Homo sapiens: one gene and its partner. The protein of the gene in region 1 purifies or fractionates together with the protein of each later gene. This does not show direct contact. Each region holds a gene or a part of one and is shown in the gene's direction. Other genes may lie near its edges.

Region 1 (3,756 bases):
GGCACAGAGAGGTTGGGTAACTTGCTCAAGATCACACAGCAACAACTAACTGGCAGATCTGGGATTCCCACTCAGAGAAGCTTCTGCTTCCTCTTCCTTCCAGGAATCAAGGAAATTTCCCACTAAGAAAGGAGCTTTAGCTTTCCTACGATGAAAGGAAGCAGGCAGGGCACTGGGAGATGGAAAGAAGCCAAAGTGAGAGCCAGTTAACATAAACTCAGGCAATGCCTGTTATTAAATTGCAGAGGCTGAGCCAGGTGCAGGGTCCTCATGCTGGGCTCATGAATGGAATGAACATGGTCTTGGTCTTTGAATAGCTCACAGCTCATGTAGAGAAATACTCTAACAAATCATTGCAAACCTGTGTGACTCGTTATAGTTTGAGGTTACCAAGACCACTGTCAGACTCAATAATTTGCTAGAAGAACTCTTAGAATCAAAGAATCTGTTACACTCAGCGTTATCGTTTATCACAGTGAAAGGATACAGATTAAAATCAGCCAAGGGAAGAGGCGCCTGAGGCAGGGCTCAGGAGACAGTAGGTGTGAGCTTCCAACTGTCCTGTCCCAGTGGAGTTATGCAGACAGCACTTCATTATCCCAGCAACGAAGTGGGACAACACACATGAGGAACTGCCAACTAGGGAAGTTCCCCCAAGCCTTGGCATCCAGAGTGTTCGTGGGGACTTGGCCACGTACATGTGGCTGACCATAAATCACACTGTTAGCATAGGCGATCTGGCATGGCCCAAGTGCCCCAGGGAAAAAAATCTCTTATCAGGCAAGGTGTTCCAAAGGCTTCGAAGTCATCTCCCAGGAGCCGGGGAAAAGGCGAAACCTTTCTTTGGGCAGGGTTAATCCTTTACTGCACACGTGTGCTAATCAGAAAGATGGAAGATGGAGAGTGGTGTCTCAAAGGATGGAGGCATCACCTCTGCTGGAAGCTACGGCTCTTCCCTCTGTCCCCGTCTTCCTGAGGGCCACGGGGGCACCACAGAAGGATTCTGAGTTCGGGAGTGGCCTGTCGGACCTGGGTACCCCACTGGTGGTCAGTAAGAATTGACAGGGAGGTAGGGAGACCTGTCAGAAGGTATAGGAAATGAGGCCCTGACTCAGAGCAGAAGCTGAGGAGATGGAGAGGAGAGGTCAGGTGTGAAAGGGTGAGGGGGTCAGTTATGTCCAGATTGTAAATGCCAAGAAGGCGGGGGCAGTGTCGGGTTTGGCTTGCCATAGGCTACCCGAGGGTCTAATATGGTGTGTGGCTCATAGGAGGTGCTCAATAAATATTTGTGACAATAAATGAATGAATGATGAATGAATGGGAACTGGGTGAGTGACTGGAGAGAAGGAGGGGCCTGGGTAGATGATCTTGTCATCATGGTGTCTCTGTCTTCTCTTCCTGCCCCACTCACCTTCCAGGGCCCCCAGGCCTGGACTCCATCTCAGACCCCTTCAGCTGGAGCTGGATTCCTGGACTGGGGAGAGATCGGGATGCCTGGCTCCCGGGAGAGCTGGCCACCAAGCCCTCTGCAAGTGTGACTGCCAGTGTTCTGGAGAAAACAACCACGAAGGCCCCAGGGAAAATGCCTAAGAGTACTAAGAAGTGGGTGACAAAAAATGCAAAGAGACCAACCACTCAACCCCCAGTGATGCCAACCACGAAACACTCCAGGGCCCAAAGCCCCCCAGACCTAACCTCACAGACCACTGCAGCACTGACCACTGAGGCCTCCCGAAGACCTACCTCTGAGTTTACCAGAAGGCCGACCACGGAGGCCCCCCAGAGATGGACCTCTCACACCACTGCCACGCTGACCCCTCAGGCCCCCCGAGAACGGACCACTAAGACCATGGCAATGCTGACCACTCAAGGCCCCCAAGAAATGACCTCTGAGTCCACTATCAAGAGTATCCCTCAGGCCTCCCTGGAGCCATCTGCTGAGATCCCAGAAGGGTCTCCAGAGTCACCCAAAGACCCGGCCCCCTCTCCCAGTGTTAGCACCACTGGGGAATCAGGTGAGTGGCCGTGAGGGGTGTGGGGAGAGAATGGGAGAGGCTGACCCTCCCTCCTGACCTAAGGGCCTTCCACGCAGGCCTGTTCCGGGTTCGTCTGGCCGATGGGCCCAACCGCTGTGCTGGCCGGCTGGAAGTGTGGCATGCCGGACGCTGGGGAACAGTGTGTGATGACAACTGGGACCTGCGGGACGCCACTGTGGCCTGCTGGGAACTGGGCTGTGGAAAGGTCCGGCCTCGAGTAGGCAAAACCCATTACGGCCCTGGGACTGGGCCCATCTGGCTGGATGACATGGGCTGTAAGGGAAGCGAGGCCTCACTGAGCGACTGCCCCTCGGGGGCTTGGGGGAAGCACAACTGTGACCACGAGGAAGACGTGGGGCTCACCTGCACTGGTACCAGGGCATGGCGGCGGTGGTGGGGTTGTCGGGGGTGGCCAGGAGAATGGAGTCAGGGTGGGGCCAGGTGACGGCACCATGGTCGACTCTAAAGAACTGGGTATGAGGGGTCGGGGTGGGGAGATCCCAGAGTTGCTCCAGAAGATTCCAAAAGGGGAGGGAAGAGCAGCAGCAAGGACCTCTGAGAAAGAGGATGGGGTCAACCATTACCCCAATTTCTCCAAAGGCTACACAGACTATGACGATTATCCCCCCTGGACCTGGGACCCCACCTCAAGAGAGGACCTGGCCAAGGGGACTACCACAGCGGGGGTACCTGGACACACTCTCCCCTGGAGGACCACCCGGCGCCCGGGTAGCTCCTCCCCAGCAATAAGGCGCCTGCCGGACACAGGTGAGAGGCCTGATTGGGGTGGCCATGGAGGGCCTCCATAAACCTCCATTCGCTTCCCTGCAGGGTTTCCAGAAAGACCCTTCTCAATGAGCTGGCTGAGGCCTCGGGGCACCCTGGAAAGGTTTTCCTTGGCTCCTGAGACCCTAAACGCATTACCTCCTTGGGCTCAATGGTGACACTTCTTCAGAGCCAAGGACACCATCTAAGAGATCAGGCTAAGCTCAGCAATCCTGAGCCCATGGCCCTCCTGTAAGCCACACAATATGCAAGCCTGGGGCCCTCAGTCAAACCCACAACCAAGGGCCATTCTGTCATCACATCATCGTCCCCACCCCAGCTCCCCCAGAGCAAGCGAAACCTCACCCATTCTTGAAGCTCACGCTCTGGTCCGGGCCTGGTATGGCTCAGAGGTGGGGACTCCTGGAGTGCAGCTTCTCTCCTTACCCTGGCCATCCCCTCCCTCTGGCCAGCAGAATCAGCCTCCAGGGCCACAGCTCCATCCCCCTCTGCTCTATGGCCTCTGTCTTGCTGCTGCAGCTCCTTCCACACCTGGGACCACGCCCCGCTTTGGCCCCCACATCACTGTCACCACATTCTTCTGCCTTTTTCTTTGCCTGTCTTCCTTGTATCCCCATCTCTCAGGATCCCTGCGAATCCATCTCTGCTCCTGTTTCTCACTTGCTGTTGGTCTCTTTTTTTCATTATCCATTTCTCACCCTCATCATCTCTATCTCTGTATTGCCCAGGATGGAGTGCAGTGGTGTGATCTCAGCTCACTGCAGCCTTGACTGCCCGGGCCCAAGCGATCCTCCTGCCTCAGCTTCCTGAAAAGGTGGGACTACAGATGTGCGCCACCACACCCGGCTCATTTTTAATTTTTGTAGAGACGGGCTCACTATGTTGCCCAGGCTGGTCTCAAACTCCTGAGCTCAGGCGATCCTCCTGTCTCACT
Region 2 (3,756 bases), on another chromosome or scaffold:
GATTCTCCTGCCTCAGCCTCCCCAGCAGCTGGGACTACAGATGCACGCCAGCTAATTTTTCTATTTTTAGTAGAGACGAGGTTTCACCATGTTGGCCAGGATGGTCTCAATCTCCTGACCTTGTGATCTGCCCGCCTTGGCCTCCCAAAGTGCTGGGATTACAGGTGTGAGCCACCACGCCCAGCCATTTTGTTGTTTTTTTATCTATAACAATTATATATATAAATATATTTTTAATGTGCCACTTATTGAAGAAAGTGGTCATTTATGCTATAGCAGTCCTGTATTTGGGTTTTAATCATTACAGGGTAACACTGAACTTGTTCTAATTGCCTATAAATAGGAAGATCCAGGTGCAGTTGGGTGGGATGGTGGACAAAAACACATCATAGATGGTATTGTGTGCTTTCTAAGACATCAAGAGGCCCAGAATGTCCAGACATCTTACTTTTGCCTGATTGACCTTATCTAGTTGGTGTTCTTTAACATGTTCCCCATCCCCTGTAAACCCTAATAACTAAACTGATAAGAGTCATCCTCAAAATTGAGCAGGCATCTGAATCATCTGGTATACTTAGTAAAATTCCAATTGCTGGTCCCCAATTTCTGACCCAAGACTCTGCATTTTTAGCAATTTGTTGCTGATACTTCTGGTCTGGAGCCCATACCTTGAGAACCCCTGGTCTAGAGGCCTGATAAGATTCAGGCTTAATTTTTTTTACAGACATACTTCATAAGTAGTATTGATAGTTTCTTTGAATCTGGTTTTTTATAATCTTTCTAATGATGAAGGAGGAATGTTCTCAATACTGACAGTAATCTCAGTTCTTCAAACTATAGGATAGGTTTCTGTAGCCACAATAGTATTTTCGTCACAAGGGCCCAAATAAGAATACATCATGTGTATTTTTAGTAGTTATTCAAATTACAAATTCACTGTCTTTAATTTATTCTAACAAAAGTAAACCTAATTTTATGATTATAAAAAAGAAGAAATCTAGTTACCTAAGAGTAAAACTGCCCCTATAAAAAAACAAGACAGAAATCTCAAAATTATAACTAATTTTATAGTTATAAAATCAACCAGGACTTTAAGAACGTTTGCATTTTAAAATTAAAGTTTTCAATAGCTTTCAATACAACAATGATATTATCTCAAAATACTCAGCATGTCTAACAGGCCTCTTTTAAAAGCTCAGCATGTTTAATGTAGATGTTGCTAACGTCCAGGTGGCTCCTATAAGTTAAGGGTCCATTGATTTAGAAGTTCTAAAAGAGACTAACCTAAGGGATACCAAGAACAGATATTTTTAAAGAATTTCATAGAGGAGATACACATTAGAAACCCAGAACTCTAAGATGTGCATTTGCTAAGTCCTGTAAACAGACAGGAAAACACATTTAAATTAGTTTGCCCTTTAAAGATTATTTACTACTTGTCTCTTATCAATGTGAGTACATAAAAGAGACCTTATTACAATTAAAAACAATGATGGTTTAGCAGCAGATTTAGATACCTTACATTCTCTCTTAAAGAGAGAGAATGTAAGGCCTGGCACGGTGGCTCACACCTGTAATCCAGCACTTTGGGAGGCTGAGGAGGGTAGATCACCCAGGAGTTCTAGACCAGCCTGGCCAACATGGTGAAACCCCGTCTCTACTCAGAATACAAAAATTAGCCGGGCGTGGTGGCACATGCCTGTAATCCCAGCTACTTGGGAGGCTGAGGTAGGAGAATCGCTTGAACCCGGGAGGCAGAGGTTGCAGTGAGCTGAGATGGTGCCATTGCACTCCAGCCCGAGCAACAAGAGCAAAACCCTGTCTCAAAAAAAAAAAAAAAAGAATGTAAACTACAAGATAGTTCAAAAGAAATTACACAGAATTCAGCATGGGAGAAACAAAAAACAATAGTGGGAAAAGACATCAAACATGTTTTTACTAATTGAAGTTCTAAAAGGAGAGAAAAGAATACAGCACAGATAATATATGAAGAGAATGGCTGGAAATCTTTCAGAACTGTTGAAGGATATCCACAGATTCAAAAACCCAATAAAATCTCAAGCAGTATTAAAAAAAAAAGAAGAAATCTACTTCTAGTCACATAAGAGTAAAACTGCCCCTAAAAAAGACAGAGAGAAATCTCAAAAGCAGCCAGAGAAAGAAGACACATTGCCTCACAATAGACTTCTCAACAGCATTGGTGTAATACTATCTCATGTACTAAAAGAAATAACTGCCAACCTTTTATATTTTCCAAGATCTCTTCTGGAAAACAAAAACTTTAAGAATCTGCCTTCATTGAAAATTCTTAATGATGTACTTTAAGCAAAAAGAAAATTTCCTAGGTAAAAGGTCTAAGATGCAAGAAAGAAAGACATGCAAAGGAAACTTACCACCATATTACAGATATGGACTGTCAGTCTGACTGGTCACACTAGGGGCATTTTGTTACCAAGGCCTTGAAAATAATAACCAACACTGCATACATGAGGGATGCCAGAAGAAAGATCTGAGAGCCACTCTTCCTGGCACTGAAGGAAACAGGGCCCATCAGAGCAAACAAGTACCTTTTGCCTCTCTCATCTCCTTGGAGGCAAATGTTTATAATCTCTGGTTTTGTGTAAAGTTTATAACAGTATTTTTCATTCAGGTTGCTACCTATTAGTGGATGGTGAAATTAATTTGGTGGATCACATTCAGAATATTTTTTTAAAATCAAAAGAATACAAGCTGGGCTCAGTGACTCACACCTGTAAGCCCAACAGTTTGGGAAGACCAGGCAGGAGGATTGCTTGAGAACAGGAGTTCAGAATCAGCCTGGGCAACATGGCGAGACCCTATGTCTGCAAAAATTTTAAAATATCCCAGATCTGGTGGCATGTGTCCATAGTCCTAGCTACTCAGGAGGCTAAGGCAGCAGGATTGTTTGTTATAAGGAGTTCGAGGCTGCAGTCAAACTTCTGGTCGAAATCCTGGTCATGCCACTGCATTTCAGCCTGGACAACAGAGTAAAACCCCATCTTTAAAAAAAAATTAAGAAATAAAAATAATATGTCAAACATTAGAATATGTTGCATCTAGTAAGGGTAAGCAATTATTTCTTGAAACTCTACATATATACATGAGTGTTGGTAAATACCTGACTGTATCATCAGCTCTAGATATAAAATGTTTATGATGTTGGCTGTAAGTTAATGAGGAATAGTTTTCCTTTCTGTGGGTTTGGGTGTATTTGGGAAACATTAGCTTAGGGGGTAAAGTAGGTTACCCAACTCGGAAAAGCAACATCAAAGTCCTTATAATTAACACATATTAGGGGCCCAACTTAAATTTCAAGCAGATGTCATGAGCTGCTCAGAGTAGCGTGTTACAACTCTGCGTTATAAGGTAAAGTGACTTAGAGTGTAACAGTAGTCCCCAAACAATGTCAAATAGACACTGGTAAGTATAGATTGCTCCTCTCCTTGCATCACAAATGTTAATTCACCTTGCCCCCACACACATTAAAACTCAGCATATTTCACAAATTGAGTGTTTCATTTCTATTTCAGGTAGACTTATGGTAAGTCAGTTTTGCTCCCCAAATAAGTTAGCCATATAGTACTTCTATATGCAAAATTTGAATCTCAATTTTACTACTCAAGCAGGAAGTAAAAGTCATTTTTCTATATCTTCTTTGCTCCCAGACTGTGTTACAGTTTACAGATCTGAATATTGTCACTTGTACACCATACATACACAGAGGTCTAAAACTCT

What was found. The genes of interacting proteins can lie anywhere in the genome.
Region 2: the proteins of SSC5D (region 1) and GCC2 purify together in Homo sapiens (affinity purification with mass spectrometry; 2 studies listed by BioGRID and IntAct, with this or other methods). This does not show direct contact.

The regions. Positions count from the first base shown.
Region 1 is NC_000019.10:55,498,398-55,502,153, forward strand, and holds part of SSC5D (soluble scavenger receptor cysteine-rich domain-containing protein SSC5D isoform 1 precursor), read left to right. Parts: intron 1-1,418; coding exon 1,419-2,015; intron 2,016-2,092; coding exon 2,093-2,407; intron 2,408-2,636; coding exon 2,637-2,804; intron 2,805-3,756.
Region 2 is NC_000002.12:108,501,099-108,504,854, forward strand, and holds part of GCC2 (GRIP and coiled-coil domain-containing protein 2), read left to right. Parts: intron 1-3,756. UniProt on the Homo sapiens protein: Golgin which probably tethers transport vesicles to the trans-Golgi network (TGN) and regulates vesicular transport between the endosomes and the Golgi.